2 separate regions of the Homo sapiens genome follow, and region 1 is linked to region 2. The links come from fine-mapping of genetic effects on gene expression. Tissue or cell type: whole blood. Region 2 holds a variant in brackets; the other region holds the start of a gene. All regions are shown on one strand. Distances are between the middles of the regions.

Evidence for each region. PIP is the estimated chance that this variant, and not a neighbour inherited with it, causes the effect.
Region 1: it holds the start of SCAMP4, and the variant in region 2 is fine-mapped to the expression of SCAMP4 in whole blood (TOPMed, PIP above 0.99).

Annotation. Positions count from the first base shown.
Region 1 is chr19:1,901,915-1,909,914 of GRCh38, reverse strand. It overlaps SCAMP4 (secretory carrier membrane protein 4), which reads right to left and starts at 4,516. Exons shown (of 7, transcript NM_079834.4): 1 at 4,476-4,516. It overlaps ADAT3 (adenosine deaminase tRNA specific 3), which reads right to left and starts at 4,516. Exons shown (of 2, transcript NM_138422.4): 1 at 4,476-4,516. RefSeq lists enhancers at 1,126-1,937, 4,013-4,102, 5,123-5,182, 5,463-5,522 and silencers at 4,263-4,412, 4,463-4,792.
Region 2 is chr19:1,869,611-1,877,610 of GRCh38, reverse strand. ABHD17A (abhydrolase domain containing 17A, depalmitoylase) reads left to right here. Exons shown (of 5, transcript NM_001130111.2): 4 at 1-103; 5 at 186-801. The coding sequence ends at 411. It also overlaps a transcript of KLF16 not described here. Among named protein-coding and RNA genes, the nearest start is that of KLF16, 10 kb to the right of the region's middle. RefSeq lists enhancers at 64-764, 1,203-1,252, 765-1,464, 1,465-2,165, 3,354-4,069 and 2 more and silencers at 971-1,112, 1,493-1,742. The variant G/A (reference allele first, on the strand shown) is at 3,341.

The DNA of each region.
Region 1 (8,000 bases), 32 kb before region 2:
GACAAGCCACGAAACGTAAGCCCCGGAGCGCAGCCCCTCCCCTGGTGGGCCCGACTTCCCATCCCTTGACCACATTCCTGCAGCTGTGGTGGGCCCTGGCTGTCGGGTGGAGCAGGCAGCCACTGGGGTGTCCCTGCTTACTCAGTCACAGAGGAGGCCCTGGCTGGAGTGGGGCTGCGGGAAGAGCTGGGATCACTCCCGGGGCTCCTGCTAACATCCCTGACTGCCGGGCAGTGTGCCAAGGCGGCTCTCGGGTGAGAACCTCCCGGCCTGACATCACCAGCACTGTTACCATCCCTGCCGCTGGCACAGGTGAGGACATCCCTGCTGCTGGCACAGGTGAAGACATCCCAGCCACTGGCACAGGTGAGGACGGGAGGCAGTAAAGCCGTTACCATCCCTGCTGCTGGCACAGGTGAGGACAGGAGATAGTAGAGCCATTACCATCCCTGCTGCTGGCACAGGTGGACATGAGGCAGTAGGGCCACTCCACTGGAGAGGAAGGGCTGGTGGGGCCCCCAGCTCTCGGGATCCGCCCATTAGAAGGGAGCCTGCCCTAGGCGGGCAGACAGCACAGCAGAGAGGCAGGCGTGGGGACAGCCAGCCTGCAGGGACTGCTCACAGGGCCCTGGGGGACAGCGCCTCTGGCTCCCACATCTCTGGCATCCACCCCACCTGAACACCCCCAAACCACAGTCTCAGCTGGCCAGCCTTCCCCCACCTGCATCTGCCCCCACAGACTCGCACCGCAGGCCTGAGGTTGGATTACAGGCGTAAGCCACCATGCCCAGCCCACATTTTTTTTTTTTTCAGACAGAGTCTCACTCTGTTGCCCAGGCTGGAGTGCAGTGGCATGATCTCAGCTCACTGCAACCTCCACTTCCCAGGTTCAAGCGATTCTCCTGCCTCAGCCCCCCTAGTAGCTGGGAATACAGGCACATGCCACCACGCCCGGCTAATTTTTGTATTTTCAGTAGAGACGGGGTTCCACCATGTTGGCCAGGCTGGTCTTGGAACTCCTGACCTCAGGTGATCCACCTGCCTCAGCCTCCCAAAGTGCTGGGATTACAGGTGTGAGCCACCGTGCCCAGCCCACATTGCTTAAAAGTATAAATTAGTTGGGCACGGTGGTGTGCACATGTAGTCCCAGCTACTCAGGAGACCAAGGCGAGAGGATCACTTAAGCACAGGAGTTTGAGACCAACGTGGGCAAGATAGAGAGACCCTGTTCCTTTTTTCAAATAAATAAATAATAATAAAATCCTAAAAACCTTACTACCTGTGTGCTCACAGTTATTTCTAGCAGACAGTACTGCCTCAGATGGTGCTGGGGCTAAGCCGCAGATGATCTTAAAATGACTCCAGCCGGGTGATCCTGAACTGCCAGCCTGGACTACACATCCCCGCTGGTATGGACGGCTCCTCCCGCAGACAGGGATGTGTCTCTGGATCATTTCGCAGCCGCGCAGCTGTGGGTGCTACTCCTCGACATGCACTGCCTGGTCCACGCCTCAGCCGCCGGGGCGCCCCACAGATGGGGGACCAGCAGCCAGTGGAACTCCAGGCCAGTGGCCTTGGAGGTCACGCTGAAGCGGCCCCAGCGCTGCCCGAAGCTCACGCGTTCAACAAAGCACAGAACCGGAGATGCAGTGGGAGCCGGGAGCAGGAAGCGCGGAGGCAGCGCCAGGTGCTGCCGCTGCCCGAGGCCCCGTGCCAGGTGGGGCCCATAGCAGCCGACTCGCTGGGCCCTCCCAAAACGCACACCACGCGCGACCAGGACCGAGAGGCCCGCACGGCCCTGCTAGGCCACAAACACTCCACTGTCTCCAGGGTAAAAGACAAACACAGCCTCGCTTGTCCCTCCAAGAGTACAACCTCTGTCTGATGAAAAACAAACGACCCAGAGAGGAGGCAGCTGCCGGGACACTGCAGGCTGGGCCCGCCGCGCCCTTGGAGGGCAGGTCAAAATCCCGGAACAGGCACAGTGTTCAGGCTGATTGACTGTCCCAGGCCAGGGCGGCCTCAACTGCCAGAGCACCTCCTACCTACCTGCTATGGCCCGGGGGGACGACTCACTCCCACAGCGACTGCCCCCCAACAGCAGGGGGCCACCTGACCCTCCCTCTACCACACCCACCCAGAAGGCAGGCGACCGACCACTGGGACCCCTCAGGAGGGCAGGCAGCCCAGGTCCCAGGTCCCAGCAGAACACGGCCGCCAGCCTGGGCTGGGAACCGGCATAGCTCCAGGCAGGTGAGTCAGACCCTGCGTGGTGACAACCCTGGTGAACAGGAGGCTGGGAGGCCTTTATCTAAGCCCACAGATGAGGAGGCCAAGGTCCGCGCCGGGACCTGGGTATGTCCACCCAGAAAACACACCCAGTCCCCAACCTGCCCTAGAGGCGTTCAGCCCAGCGCGGTCAATTCCTGACTGCGAGAACTCAGGCACCAGTCCTGACTCCTCCAAGCCTCGGCTTCCACCCCTGTGAAATGGGAATTCCTGCTCTACCTTTTTTTTTTTTTTAAGGCAGGGCTGTCAGGTACATAAGAGAAAATGGGGGGATGGAGGGGCCTGACCATCTTCAGCAGAATCCAGGAGGGCTCCTCGGAGGCAGTGACCCACAGCCCAGCCTGGAAGGCTGGGGAAGTAGGGGAGAGAACTCGGAGAGGGAACAGCTAATGCTCAGTTCCAGGGCACACCAATAGTCTGCGTGGGGGCTTTTTTTTTTTTGGGACAGTCTCACTCTGTCCCCCAGGCTGGAGGGCAGTGGCGCGATCCTGGCTCACTGCAACCTCTGCCTCCCTGGTTCAAGCAATTCTCCTGCCTTAGCCTCCCAAGCAGCTGGGACAACAGATGTGCACCACTATGCCTGGCTAATTTTTTATATTTTTAGTAGAGGTGGGATTTCACCATATTGGTCAGGCTGCTCTCGAACTCCTGACCTTGTGATATACCTGCCTAGGCCCCCCAAAGTGCTGGGATTACAGGCGTGAGCCACTGCGCCCAGCCTGGGGCTTGTTTCTTTACACACACACACACACACACACAATTTTTTTTTTTTTTTGAGACGGAGTCTCACTCTGTCGCCCAGGCTGGAGTGCAGTGGCACGATCCTGGCTCACTGCAAGCTCTGCCTCCTGAGTTCACACCATTTTCCTGCCTCAGCCTCCTTTGGGAGTAGCCGGGACCACAGGCGTCCACCACCATGCCTGGCTTTTTTTTATTTTTAGTAGAGACAGGGTTTCACCGTGTTAGCCAGGATGGTCTTGATCTCCTGATCTCGTGATCCACCCGCCTTGGCCTCCCAAAGTGCTAGGATTACAGGCGTGAGCCACCACGGCCGGCGCTACACGTATGTATTTTATTTATTTATTTAGAGACAGGGTCTCGCTCTGTTGCCCAGGCTGGAATGCAGTAGTGCCATCACAGTTCACTGCAGCCTCAACCTCCGGGGCTCAAGCAATCCTCCTGCCTCAGCCTCCCAAGTAGCTGGGACCACAGACATGTGTCACCATGCCTGGCTTATTAAAAAAAAATCTTTTTTTCTTTTTTTTGGAGAGTGAGTCTTGCTAGCTTGCTCAGCCTGGAGTACAATGGTGCCATCTTGGCTCACTGCAACCTCCACCTCCCAAGTCCAAGCGATTCTCCTGCCTTGGCCTCCCCAGTAGCTGGTTTTACAGGCGCGTGACACCACGCCCAGCTAATTTTTGTATTTTTGGCAGAGATGGAGTTTCACCATGTTAGACAGGCTGGTCTCGAACTCCGGACCTCAGGTGATCCACTCGCCTTGGCCTCCCAAAGTGCTGGGGTTATAGGGTGAGGAACTGCACCCAGCCGTCCTTGTTTCCACGGAGTCGATCCTCTGTTTCTGGCCACCCTACAAGGAGGCCTTCTCTGCAAGACAGCGGGGAACCTCGGTCCTCGGGGTAGTGTGTGGGAGATAACTGGGGGCCTGTGATACAAAAACCTGAAAAACTCATACTCTAGGTAACGATGAGGAACGATGGTCAATTCTGGGGATGTACCAAGGCCTAGGGGAATCTCCACATAAAGGCGAATCAGAGCTGGGGAGGAAGGACGCGAAGGCTACGGAAACTCGCGAGAGCGCGGTTCAGAGGCAGGGGACTGCGGGACATGACCTGAGGAAGGGCCACCGGAAGCAGCTGGAGGATACGGGGTCTCCCGCACCGACCATAAGGGCGCACACGCGCAGAAAGGCGCTAGGCCCGGGGGAGCGCGGTCCTGAGGCTTCCCCCAGGCCAGCGCCGCGCGCGCGCGCGCACGCGCATTCGCGCCGCCTCCCCGCGTCGCCCACCGGCCCGCCCGAGACGCGCGCGAGGCTGGCCTGGGCCCCCCGTTTTCTCCCCACAAACGGCCGGCGCCCCTCACCGCCGAGACCCCCCATGTCAGCCCCTACTCCCCCTCTGGGGAAGTCTGAGCCTGGAGAACCCGAGACCTCGGGGCCGCGCGCTTACCTGAGGGATCCGGGCGCGAGCGCAGCGCTTCGCCAAGTCTTAGCAACCGGCCCGGCCCAACCCACCTCACCCCGCCTCGTCTCCGCCTGGAGCCGCGGAGCACGACGGGAGCGTAGTTCCAGGGGCGGGATCTTCGCCAGGCCAAGGTGGGGCAAGGACTACAATTGCTAGTAGGCACTGCGCGCCGCCGCCTCGCCCCGCCCCGCTCCGGCACTGCGCTCACATGACCTCCGGGCGGCGGGAGGGGAGGAGAGGCGGGGCCGCTGCGCTGGGCGAGCGCTGAGTTTGCAGGTTCGAATCCCATCAAGCGGCCAGGGAAAACTCGGAACCCGGGGGATCTTTGGAAGGTTAGCAGAGTGGGAAGGATGAGGCAGAGGGGGTATATGACACCCGTCCCCTGAGTCCGGGATGGGGCCAGGTTCCAGTTCTGCCTGTTACTGCACTCCGGCGTGGGCCGCCCTCAGGTTTGAGTTTTCTCACCAGTAACGTAGGTGAAGAAGACCTCTTGCCTCTCCTGGGCCAAACAAGCACATTTTTTTTTTTTTTTTTGAGACGTAGCCTCAGTCTGTCACCCAGGCTGGAGTGCAGTGCTAGGCTCACTGCAACCTCCACCTCCTGGGTTCAAGCGATTTCTGGCTAGTTTTTGTACTTTTAGTAGAGAAGGGGTTTCACCAAAACATGCATATTTTATGAGCAATTTGTTACTCCTTCCAGTTGGACAGGTTTAACCAAGTGGTTCTCAACGGGAGGGAATTTGTCATCCCCTCCCCCAACAGCTTGACAGTGCCTGGCTGTAACCAGCTCAGGCTCCGATGCCAGAGTCTTGACAAACCAGTAAGGAGGAAAAAGTGCAGTGAAAGGAAGGTGACTTCCTTTCAGAGTTCGCAGCAGGGAGGCAGCTGGTTTAGGCCTCCAGAAACCCCTTCAAACTTGAGGCTGGGGTGAGGGGCTAAAAAAGGGGAACTGGGAATGGTGGGTGTGCAGGGGAGGTGCTGATTATAAGCTCTGTGTGTTCATGAATTTTGGTGGCTTAAAAGCGCAGGCTGGCCTCATCCTAATAAGGGCCGGGTTGCAGACCACCTTGAGGAAATCTCTGGGATTTTGCAGGTGGGTCTCCGTGCTTGGCCTGTCTCCAGATTAGCTCTAAAACGTTCTTTCTTTTTTCTTTTTTTTCGAGACAGTCTCGCTCTTGTCACCGAGGCTGGAGTGCAGCAGCACGATCTCAGCTCACCGCAACCTCCACCTCCCAGATTCAAGTGATTCTCCTGCCTCAGCCTCCCGAGTAGCTGGGATTACAGGCACACGCCACCACACCTGGCTAATTTTGTATTTTTAATAGAGATGGGGTTTCTCCATGTTGGTCAGGCTGGTCTCAAACTCCTGACTTCAGGTGATCTGCCCGCCTCGGCCTCCCAAAGTGCTGAGATTACAGGCGTGAGCCACCGTGCCCAGCCTGTTCCTGGAACTTTTAGGTAATCACATAATTAGATGCATACAGTTAGGTAAACCTGCAGAGTGTGAGGGAGTTTATGGTGAGAAAGGGGAGGACGTGTTTCAAAGAAAGTGCATTTCAAGGTCGGATGCGGTGGCTCATGCCTGTACTCCCAGCACTTTGAGAGGCCAAGGTGGGTGGATCACCTGAGGTCAGGGGTTCGAGACCAGCCTGGCCAACATGGCGAAACCCCATCTCCACTAAAAATACAAAAATTAGCCAGGCATGGTGGCAGGGGCCTTTAATCCCAGCTGCTGGGAAGGCTGAGGCAGGAGAATCACTTGAACCCGGGAGACGAAGGTTGCGATGAGCTGAGATCGCACCATTGCACTCTGTTGCCTGGGCGACAGAGTGAGACTCCATCTCAAAAAAAAAAAAAAAAAAAAAAAAAAAAAAAAACAGCATTCCAGGAAACTATTTCGCTCTCAGTTGCTTTCTTTTTTCCTTTTCTGAATAAAAACTCAGACTGCTGTGAGTTTCACTTTTTCTTTTTTTAGCTTAAATACACATCTCTCCATCCCTGGATGCCTCATGCAAACTAGCCAAGAGCCCCTGTTTTGCTGATTTGTTTTAAAAAAAAAAAAGACAGCCTTTATTTGGTAAGTCATTAAATCCAAAGCCCAGATTCTCTGCATCTAAAAAAATGAATCTAGGCCAGGCATGGTGGCTCGTGCCTGTAATTCCAGCACTTTGGGAGGCTGACACATGAGGTTTGCCTGAGGCCAGGAGTTTGAGACATGCTGCCATCTCTGCAAAAAAAAAAAAAAAAAGAATTGCTGGGTCCGGAGGGGCACTGAGTAAGTGGGACAGCTGGGACAGCTACTCAGGAGGCCGAGGTGGGAGGATCACTGGAGTCCAGAAGGTCAAGGCTGAAGTGAGCTATGATTGCGCCACTGCGCTCCAGCTGGCTAATTTTTGTATTTTTTAGTACACCATGTTGGCCAGGCTGGTCTCAAACTCCTGACCTCTGGTGATCTACCTGCCTCAGCCTCCCAAAATGCTGGGATAGTGCGAGCCACCATGCCTGGCCTTCTTTCGGGTTTTTGTTTTGCTTTGGGCTTTAAGCTAGTTTCAGTCATGATTTCAGCCTCTACTGATGGGACCCCTTTTTTAATTGACATTGTTCTTTATCCAGAACTTTTCTTTTTCTTTCTTTTTTTTTTTTTTTTTTTTTTGAGAAGGAGTCTCACTCTGTCGCCCAGGCTGGAGTGCAGTGGCGCGATCTCAGCTCACTGCAAGCTCCACCTCCCTGCAAGCTCCACCTCCCGGATTCACGCCATTCTCCTGCCTCAGCCTCCCGAGTAGCTGGGACTACAGGCGCCCACCACCACGCCCCGCAAATTTTTTTGTATTTTTAGTAGAGACGGGGGTTTCACCATGTTCGCCAGGATGGTCTCGATCTGTTGACCTCGTGATCCGCCCGCCTCGGCCTCCCAAAGTGCTGGGATTACAGGCATGAGCCACCGCGCCCGGCCTTTATCCAGAACTTTTCAAAAGTAATGTGGCCCACAGCCGGTGTGCTGGCTCACACCTGTAATCCCAGTGTAATCCCAGGACTTTGGGAGGCCGAGGCGGAGGGATTGCTTGAGTCTAGGAATTTTGAAATTGCCCTGGGCAACACAGCGAGACCTTGTCTCTTTCTTTAAAAAAAAAAAAACAACATAGCTGGGAATGGTGGCGCCTGTAGTCTCAGCTACATGCCGGGAGGCTGCGGCAGAAGGATGGCTTGAGCCCAGGAGGCAGAGGTTGCAGTGAGCTGAGATCACACCAATGCCACTTCACTCCAGCCTGGGTGACAGCCAGACCGTCTCAAAAAACAAACGGAACGTGACCCTCCCGACTCACAGTAATGCGTCAGGGTCCGGCATCGAAATGTTGCAAAATCATGGAGTCGGTTCCCCAATTGTGAGCTTAGTGGCCGCAGAGAATCAGCCAGAAGCCTAAGTCAGACACTGGCGGGCTGGGTGGCCCCAAGTGACAGGCAGTCAAGAAATGACCAGGACCAAGCTCGGGGGCTCACGCCTGTAATCCCA
Region 2 (8,000 bases):
GCTACGAGTGTGCCGCGGTGGTGCTGCACTCGCCGCTCACCTCGGGCATGCGCGTCGCCTTCCCCGACACCAAGAAGACCTACTGCTTCGACGCCTTCCCTAAGTGAGCGGCCCGGGCGGGGACGGGGGCGGGGCGGGGCCCGGGCCGGGCGCGAAGTCTCACCGGCTCCACGACCCTCCCGCAGCATCGAGAAGGTGTCCAAGATCACGTCTCCCGTGCTCATCATCCACGGCACGGAGGACGAGGTGATCGACTTCTCGCACGGGCTGGCGCTCTACGAGCGCTGCCCCAAGGCGGTGGAGCCGCTGTGGGTGGAGGGCGCCGGGCACAACGACATCGAGCTCTACAGCCAGTACCTGGAGCGCCTGCGTCGCTTCATCTCCCAGGAGCTGCCCAGCCAGCGCGCCTAGCGGCGGCCCCAACCGGCCGGACCTCAGCAATAAGGCGGCCCCCGGACCTCACCCCGCGCCGGCCCCCACCCAGGGGCTGCATGTGGACCCCCCGGGCGGCCCAGGGGACCCCGCCCCGACCCAGGGGCTGTGGACGATGTACAGGCAACAGAGCTACGCACTCCTTTCCTTTTGGAAGCAAGAAGAAAATACGTGAAAACGGAAATTAAAGATTTAAAATTTTAGGGCTGCTCTCCTTCCTTTCATGGCTCTGCTCACTCTCTCGAGCGCTCAGCGAGCTCGAAAGGGGGCCGGGGTTCCCAGGTTTCGTCCCTGAGTCCCTAGGAGAGATCGGCACGGACCCCCTTATAGGTTTTACTCTGCGGAAGTGGGGTGGGTCTCTGTCTAGTCCGGGGAGCCCTTAGGGAGCTGGTTGCCTGGGCGATGATGGGTGGGGCAGCGTTTGAGCCCAGGACCCCTGCCTGCTTCCTAGGGAGGCTGGTGAGCCCTGCTGGGTGGGCGCGATGAGGACGCCAGGCGTGGGGGCCCTGCTGCCATCGCGGGACTGCCCCCTCGACAGCTTCCCGTCAGTCCTACTGCAGAGGGGCCAGGACAGCGCACTCTGGGTCCTGAGGTGCCGCGCTTGACGGACCTCAGAGCTCGGACAGGCCGCTTCCTTCGTAGATGGCGAAGCTGGGGTCCAGCAGAGGGCGGTGGCAGGTGCTTGGGCCCCGAGGGTCTCCCCTGGAAGAGGGAGCCGACACTGGAGCTGGGATCACGAGAAGAGTTCCTACGATCTCTAGGGCAGAAGGCTTAGGACCGGGAGGACTCGGGAACCGGTGGCCTGTTGTCCACCTTAGGGTTGGGCAGGGTTCAGCCTGTGTCGCGCGACCAGGCGGTGGCGAGGCCGGGATCCCAAGCTGCATCCAGCTAGCTCTAGTCCGCGGCCCCTTTAAGGGGGGGCGGTGCTTCAGTCTGGGCGCGAGAAGGCGCTGCGTCACGTGCGGGGCCGCAGCACGGACGGAAGCGGAAGTGGCGGCGTGCGTGCGGCAGTGGAGACGGCGGCGGCGGTGGCTGGCGTCAGGCTGTGGACGAAGAGGCGGCCTCGGTGGTAAGTGGCGGCCGCTGGGACCCAGCCAGGTACCGGTCCGGCTCGGCCCTGCCCCTTTCCGGCCGCTCTCACTCCTTCCCTCGGCCTCGAGTTCCTCGTAGGCCCGTGGGGGCCGCCGCGGGGTCGGGGCTGCGAGGCAGCGCCCGCCGTTCCATGGTAAGCGGTGCTACGGGACGTTCGGAAGGAAACCTCGCTAGAGCAGGGGACGCCTGGGCTCCTGGCTGACCACGGGGCCTTTGCACGGCCAGGGCTTTGCGACCGCAGTGTCTTCCTTCTGTCCCCGGTCGTGCGCCGTGCCCCTCAGCGCGGCTCACGTTTCGGAACACGTCTGCCTTTCATGCCTCCCGAAGAGCCTCCCCGCATCCCGTGCCCCCTGCTCGCTGCTGCCGCTGACCCTTGGGCGCTGCGCTGGTCCAGAGCGTGTTGTCCTCTGACGCCGTCAGAACCTGAGCTCCCTGCGAGCTGGGACTCCGCCGTGTCTTCATTGCCTCCAGTGCAAAGCAACTGCTTGCAAGAGAACAAAAGTGTGTTCAGGTGCACAGAGTAGAAAATTCAAGGAGCCTGAAAGGGTATTTGGTGAAGACTTGATGTGTTTTTCCCAGTCCTAACCTCCAAGGCCCAGTTCTCCCCTGGGGCAGAGGGAAACCCGTTTCTTACGGGTCTGCAAAGAAAGTCTATGCAGGAACATCTACGTGCGTTTCTGCAAAAGGTCAGTTACTTTACTTGGGGCTCTTATACTTAACGTAGCTCGGAGAGCGCCCCATGCATTCAGATACAGGTGGGATTCCTCCGGAAACGGAGTTTTATAGCACCAGACTTTATCCCCTTTCCTGTAGAAATTTAGGGTTTTTGCTGTCTTTTATAACGAACAATGCTAGCTTGACTATTGCTTGTACAAACCGTTTTTTGCCCAAGTCGGACTATTTTCTTAGGTTAAATTCCTTGGTGCAGAAGTGCGAGGGCTGTATTTAGGCCCCTAAAGGGGTGGTACCAAATCGCCCTCCCCCACCAGCATAAGAGGGGGCCGGCGACACCCTTGCCCAAGCTGGATTTTGCAGACCTGGTAGGCGTGAGATAGTATTTCACTGTAGCTTGTGTTTCCTGTAAGTATAGTCGAACGTCGTGATGTTCCTGTTACATCTATGTTACGTTGATCATTGTTACCACTGACAGTCGTTTCGAGATTGGAAAATATGTTTATTATAAACGTTTGACTATTTAAAAGCCATTTGTATTTTATCTTCTTGGCTCATTTTTCTGTTGGGTGGATGGTGGTGGTTTCTAGGTGCACTTTACAGATTAAGAAAATTCGCTTTCTGTCTAGTAGAAGTGTTTTTTTTTTTTTTTTTTTTTTTTTTTTTTTGGGACTCTGACACATTTATTGCTGAATACCATTTCTCGGCTGACCCGGAAGTGTTTCTTTTTTCTATCTGTCATTAGTCTTTGACTTTGTTTGTATTTTTTTCTTTAAGCTAAGCATCTAAAATTGTTACTGGTCATTAGTTTTTTTCTCTTTACGGCTCCTGCATTTTTGTGTCATCTCAGGAATATCTTCTCCGCTGTAAGATCATAAAACATTTGAGATTTTCTTCTAGAAATGTAGTGGGGTTTTTTTTTCCCCATATATTTAAATGCTTATGTCTAATTTTAGAAAGTATTCCTGGTAAGGAGTAAGGTAGGAAGCAAAACTTTTTTTCCACAAATTGTCCCAACTTTATTTCCCAAAAAAGCATTCTTTTCCCCACTGAAGTGCTGTCTTTATGGCAAGTAGATTTGGGTCTGTCCCTAGACTCTTATCCCAGTTTTCCAGAACCCCATTGTCTTCCTGACCTCATGTCC[G/A]GAGGCCCCTCCTCCTTGCATTATTTTGCACGTTTCTTTTTTCTCCTGAACAGCAGGCAAGTTTATCTGGTTCTCCCACCGTGATCTTCTTTGAAAACATTGAGATTGCTTAGATTCTTAGATTTACAGATCAAACTGAGATAAAATTCTCATCTTAAAATAGTTGACGACTTCATCTGATCCATGTGGTACTAGTTCCACAAGACACTGTGATGAAGAGGATTTTGGAAATCGAAGTATTTGGGGCCGCCCCTCCCTCCCTGCGGGCTGTGGATATTCACGGTGCGCGATGCTGGCCTTGGTTTCAGGCAGCCCCATTCTCAAGCTGCTGCGAACTCAGCACCGAGGCTTCGGCAGGGCTCCCAGACGCCTTCAGCGTACACTGTGTTCCCTCTGCCTGTCCCTCTCACATGGGGTAAACCGAGTCCGGGCCTTCAGGCTCCAGGCTGTCAGGCCAACTTCCACCCTCGGCCTCTCCCCACCACCCCCTGCTCTTGGGACCCGGGAGGACCCCGCAGGGGTGGCGACAGGGGAGGCCAGCACTCTATTCCAGGACGCGCGCTCTCCCCACCTCCCACTTGGTATGGCCCGGGGCCAGGCCACCTGGGAGTAGGGCCAACTTCCCGTTCTCCATTTTGTGGATTTTCCAGGACACACTTGTTCAAGCCCTGCAACAGCGTTCTCCCGGGTAGGGCGCCTGGGGGCTGAGTCTCTGGTCCACCCTGTGTCACCTGCTCCTGGTACACCCCAGCACGGGGCCCTGGGTGACGGGACAGACACCAGCCAGGTGACCCTATGGCCTAGGCCCACTCTGGTACCCGGAGCCCGGGGGGAGGGCAGACCCTCCCCAGGGCCAGTGGCTGGAGCATGGCTGTGGGTGTGGCAGAGGCTTGCCTGAGATGTGGGCTAGGCCCTTCCAGTGGGTCAGGTCTGGGGCGGTGCCCAGGGCTGTGCACCCTCCAGCTGCTCCCCAGGGGACCAGTGGCCTGTCAGCCCCGACTGGCATTCGTGGGGTCCCAGCATGTGTGTGTGGGCGGCTGACCAAGCTCTTATGACGCTGTGGCTGCATTCATCCGTCGTCCCATTAATGCCAAGCTGGTGGGACCCACCCGGCTGGCTCTGTTCTGCATGACCTGAGGGCCCTCTGGGGTTCTGGAAGAGGATGGAGACCATCCCTGCTTGGCTGTGATTCTGTCCTCTTGGCCTGTGGTGGCCGTGACCTGAGGTGGGGCCTCTGGGAGCAGGCGCCTCCTCTTTCCTCCCCTATGGCAGGCACCTGCCTGTCCACCTCTGAGTCCGGGTGTCAGGATCAAGGTGGGAGTGCAGGGCCGCCTTGTTAACTGGGAGTCCATCCAGTGGGCGCCCAACTGGTATCAGAGCGGCCCAGGGGCCAGCACAAGCCCCTGGTCCCACTTCCCTCCCGGTTCCGGGCTCCGGCCACGGGCCACGTCGATCTTCACAACGATTCTGGGCTGCTGGGGTGACTGTCCCTGCTTCCCCACCGAGAGAAGTAGCCGAGACCCCGGCCAGGCCCGCGCTCCCTCGGCACTCGGCGTCTCCCAGCCACGACAGCACAGGTGGCTCAGAAATAAGGTCCCGGGACACACATCTGCCCGGCCAGACAGCGAGCACCTCCCGCCAGACCAGAGCCTATTCTCTCCCCAGCACCCAGCCGGAAGTGGAGCTCAGAACAGGCAGTGTGTGTGTCCGTGGAGGATAAGAGCGCGACTCTGGGACCCGCCCTCCCCAATAGCCTCACGGAGGGAACAGGCCCAGGCGGGGTGCTTTATGTGAATGAAGCCTGTGGCTGTTAGCAGAGTGCCCTGAAACCCCACCACTAGGCTGGGCGCGGTGGCTCACGCCTGTAATGCCAGCACTCTGGGAGGCCGAGGCGGTGGATGACCTGAGGTCAGGAGGTCGAGACCAGCCTGACCAACATGGTGAAACCCTGTCTCTACTAAAAAAGTACAAAAATTAGCTGGCATGGTGGCGGGCGCCTGTAGTCCCAGCTACTCGGGAGGCTGAGGCAGGAGAATCGCTTGAACCCAGGGGGCGGAGGTTGCAGTGAGCCAAGATTGCACCACTGCACTCCAGCCTGGGCAACACAGCAAGACTCCATCTTAAAAAAACAACGAAAAACCACCGCCACCTGTCTGACCCTGTTCAAGGGGGAAAGCTCTTATGGAAGCTTTTCATCATCTTTGGGAGGCCAAGGAAGCGGGGTGCCTGGGGGTCCTGGTCCCCTCCCGACTCTGTGCAGATAAAATCCCCGGCCCTGGCCCTGCAGTCCTGCTGAGGAGGGGCTGGGGGTGCAGGGGTTGGGGGATTCGCACGGGAAAGGAAATGCCAGCCGGATCCTGCCCCTGCTGCCCACCCTGTGCAGGATGGAGGAGGCCTTGGTGTCCCTGAAGCAGCTCCTAGCATGGATGCCGTGGACCCCAGAGATGCTCCCTGCAGGACCCCACGCAGGGGCTTCCTTGCAGTCGGCCAGCAGGGTGACCTCGCTGTGTCCTCCGGTTGGAGGGTGGCAGCTGCTGCCCCACCTTCCCACCTGGCTGGTGGAACCTTGTCCTCTGTCCCCCAGGAGCTTGCAGCTGCCCCCCCGCCCCCCACCGTGCGTGGTGGCCCCCCTGGACTGGACCATGGTAAGTGATTTAACGCCTTAACACAGAAATATACCCTGAGTGGCTTTGGGGGTCGGCGTTTTGGTCACATAATGCAACACCTGCAGTAATGTAAATAAAGGCTATCACCAGACCACAGTGTCCTGCAGGAGCGCCAGCCCCGGGGGGGTGGGGACTTTAGGGTTTTGTTGACAATCAGGATCACCGGGAGAGGTCAGGGTCACACCGTCAGATACTCAAATGGGTGGCACAGACCGCTGAGTGCGTCCTCTGCAGGCCTCATGGCCACCTCCGCAGCCCGTCCAGTCCCTCCTGCTACGGCCCTGGGTCCCTGCAGGCCTGTCCGGAGGTGGCTTCCACAGGTTGGCAAAGGTCATCCGTGAATAAACAGCCTGTGGGTACAGGTGACAACACACGGAGAATTGAGGCCATGTCTGGGGCACAGGCTTTACTGTGAAGCTTGCTTTTGCCACCCCATCTGTGAGGCTCTGCAGCAGGACTGACGGTTCTGCCTGATTCTCCAGCAGCCTCAGGGTCTCTGTGACCCCGCCGCTGATACTGGGGTCCATTCCCTGTTTTTTCTGTTACCAGCAGTACAGTGCACAACCCTGTGCACTCTTTCCTTACGGATCTTTCTTTTTTCTTTTTTTTGAGACAGAGTCTCACTCTGTGGCCCAGGCCGGAGTGCAGTGGCGCAATCTTGGCTTACAGCAATCTCCACCTCCTGGGTTCAAGTGATTCTCCTGCCTCAGCCTCCCGAGTAGCTGGGATTACGGGCGCGTGCCACCACGCCTGGTTAATTTTTGTATTTTTAGTAGAGACGGGGTTTCACCATGTTGGCCAAGCTGGTCTGAAACTCCTGACCTCAGGTGACCTGCCCGCCTCTGCCTCCCAAAGTGCTGGGATTAAAGGCGTGAGCCACCACGCCAGGCCAGGAATCAGGAATCTTTCTTTTTTTCTTTCTTTTTTTTTGGGTCAGACTGTCACCCTGTTACCTGGGCTGGAGTGTAGTGGTGTGATCATGGCTCCCTGCAGCCCCAACCTCCCAGTCCTAGGCTCGAGTGATCTTTCCACCTCAGCCTCCCAATTACCTGGGACGACAGGCACACGTCACCACACTTGGCTAATTGTATTTTGTGTAGAAATGCAGTCTTGCTTTGTTGCCCAGGCTGGTCTCGAACTCCTGGCCTTAAGCGATTCTCCCGCCTTGGCCTTCCAAAGTGCTGGGATTACAGTCATGAGCCACCATCCCTGGCCCTTAGGAGTATTTCCTGGGTGCCTTTCTAGGAGTGGACTTTAAAGCAACTCCAAGCAGTGCTGCAAATGTGAGCTGCTGCCGTGCTGCCATTGTCATTATTATTATTCAGTCCAGTCACCCCCACATCCACTTTTCATATTTGTTTAAAAAGTAAGTTTTGGCCGGGTGTGGTGGCTCACGCCTGTAATCCCAGCACTTTGGGAGGCCGAGGCGGGCAGATCATGAGGTCAGCAGTTCGAGACCAGCCTGGCCAATGTGGAGAAACCCCGTCTCTACTAAAAATACAAAATTAGCCGGGTTTGGTGGCACGTGCCTGTAATCCCAGCTACTCAGGAGGCTGAGGCAGGAGAATCACTTGAACCAGAGAGTCAGAGGTTGCAGTGAGCCGAGATTGCACCACTGTACTCCAGCCTGGCGACAGAGGGAGACTCCGTCTCAAAAAAAAAAAAAAAAAAAAAGAAAAAGTATTTATCTTGGGTTGGGTGTGGTGGCTCACGCCTGTAGTCCTAGCACTTTGGGAGGCCAAAGCAGGAGGATTGTTTGAGCCCAGAAGTTGGAGATCAGCCTGGACAGCAAAAGTAAGACCCTATCTCTAGAAAATGAAATTTAAAAAATTTAGCCGGGCGTGGCGGTGTGCACCTGTGGTTCCAGTTACTTGGGAAGCTGAGGTGTGAGGATCACTGGAGCCCAGGAGGTAGAGGCTGCAGTAAGCTATGATTGCTCCACTGCACTCCAGCCTGGGCAACAGTGAAATCTCATCTTAAAGACAATAATAAAA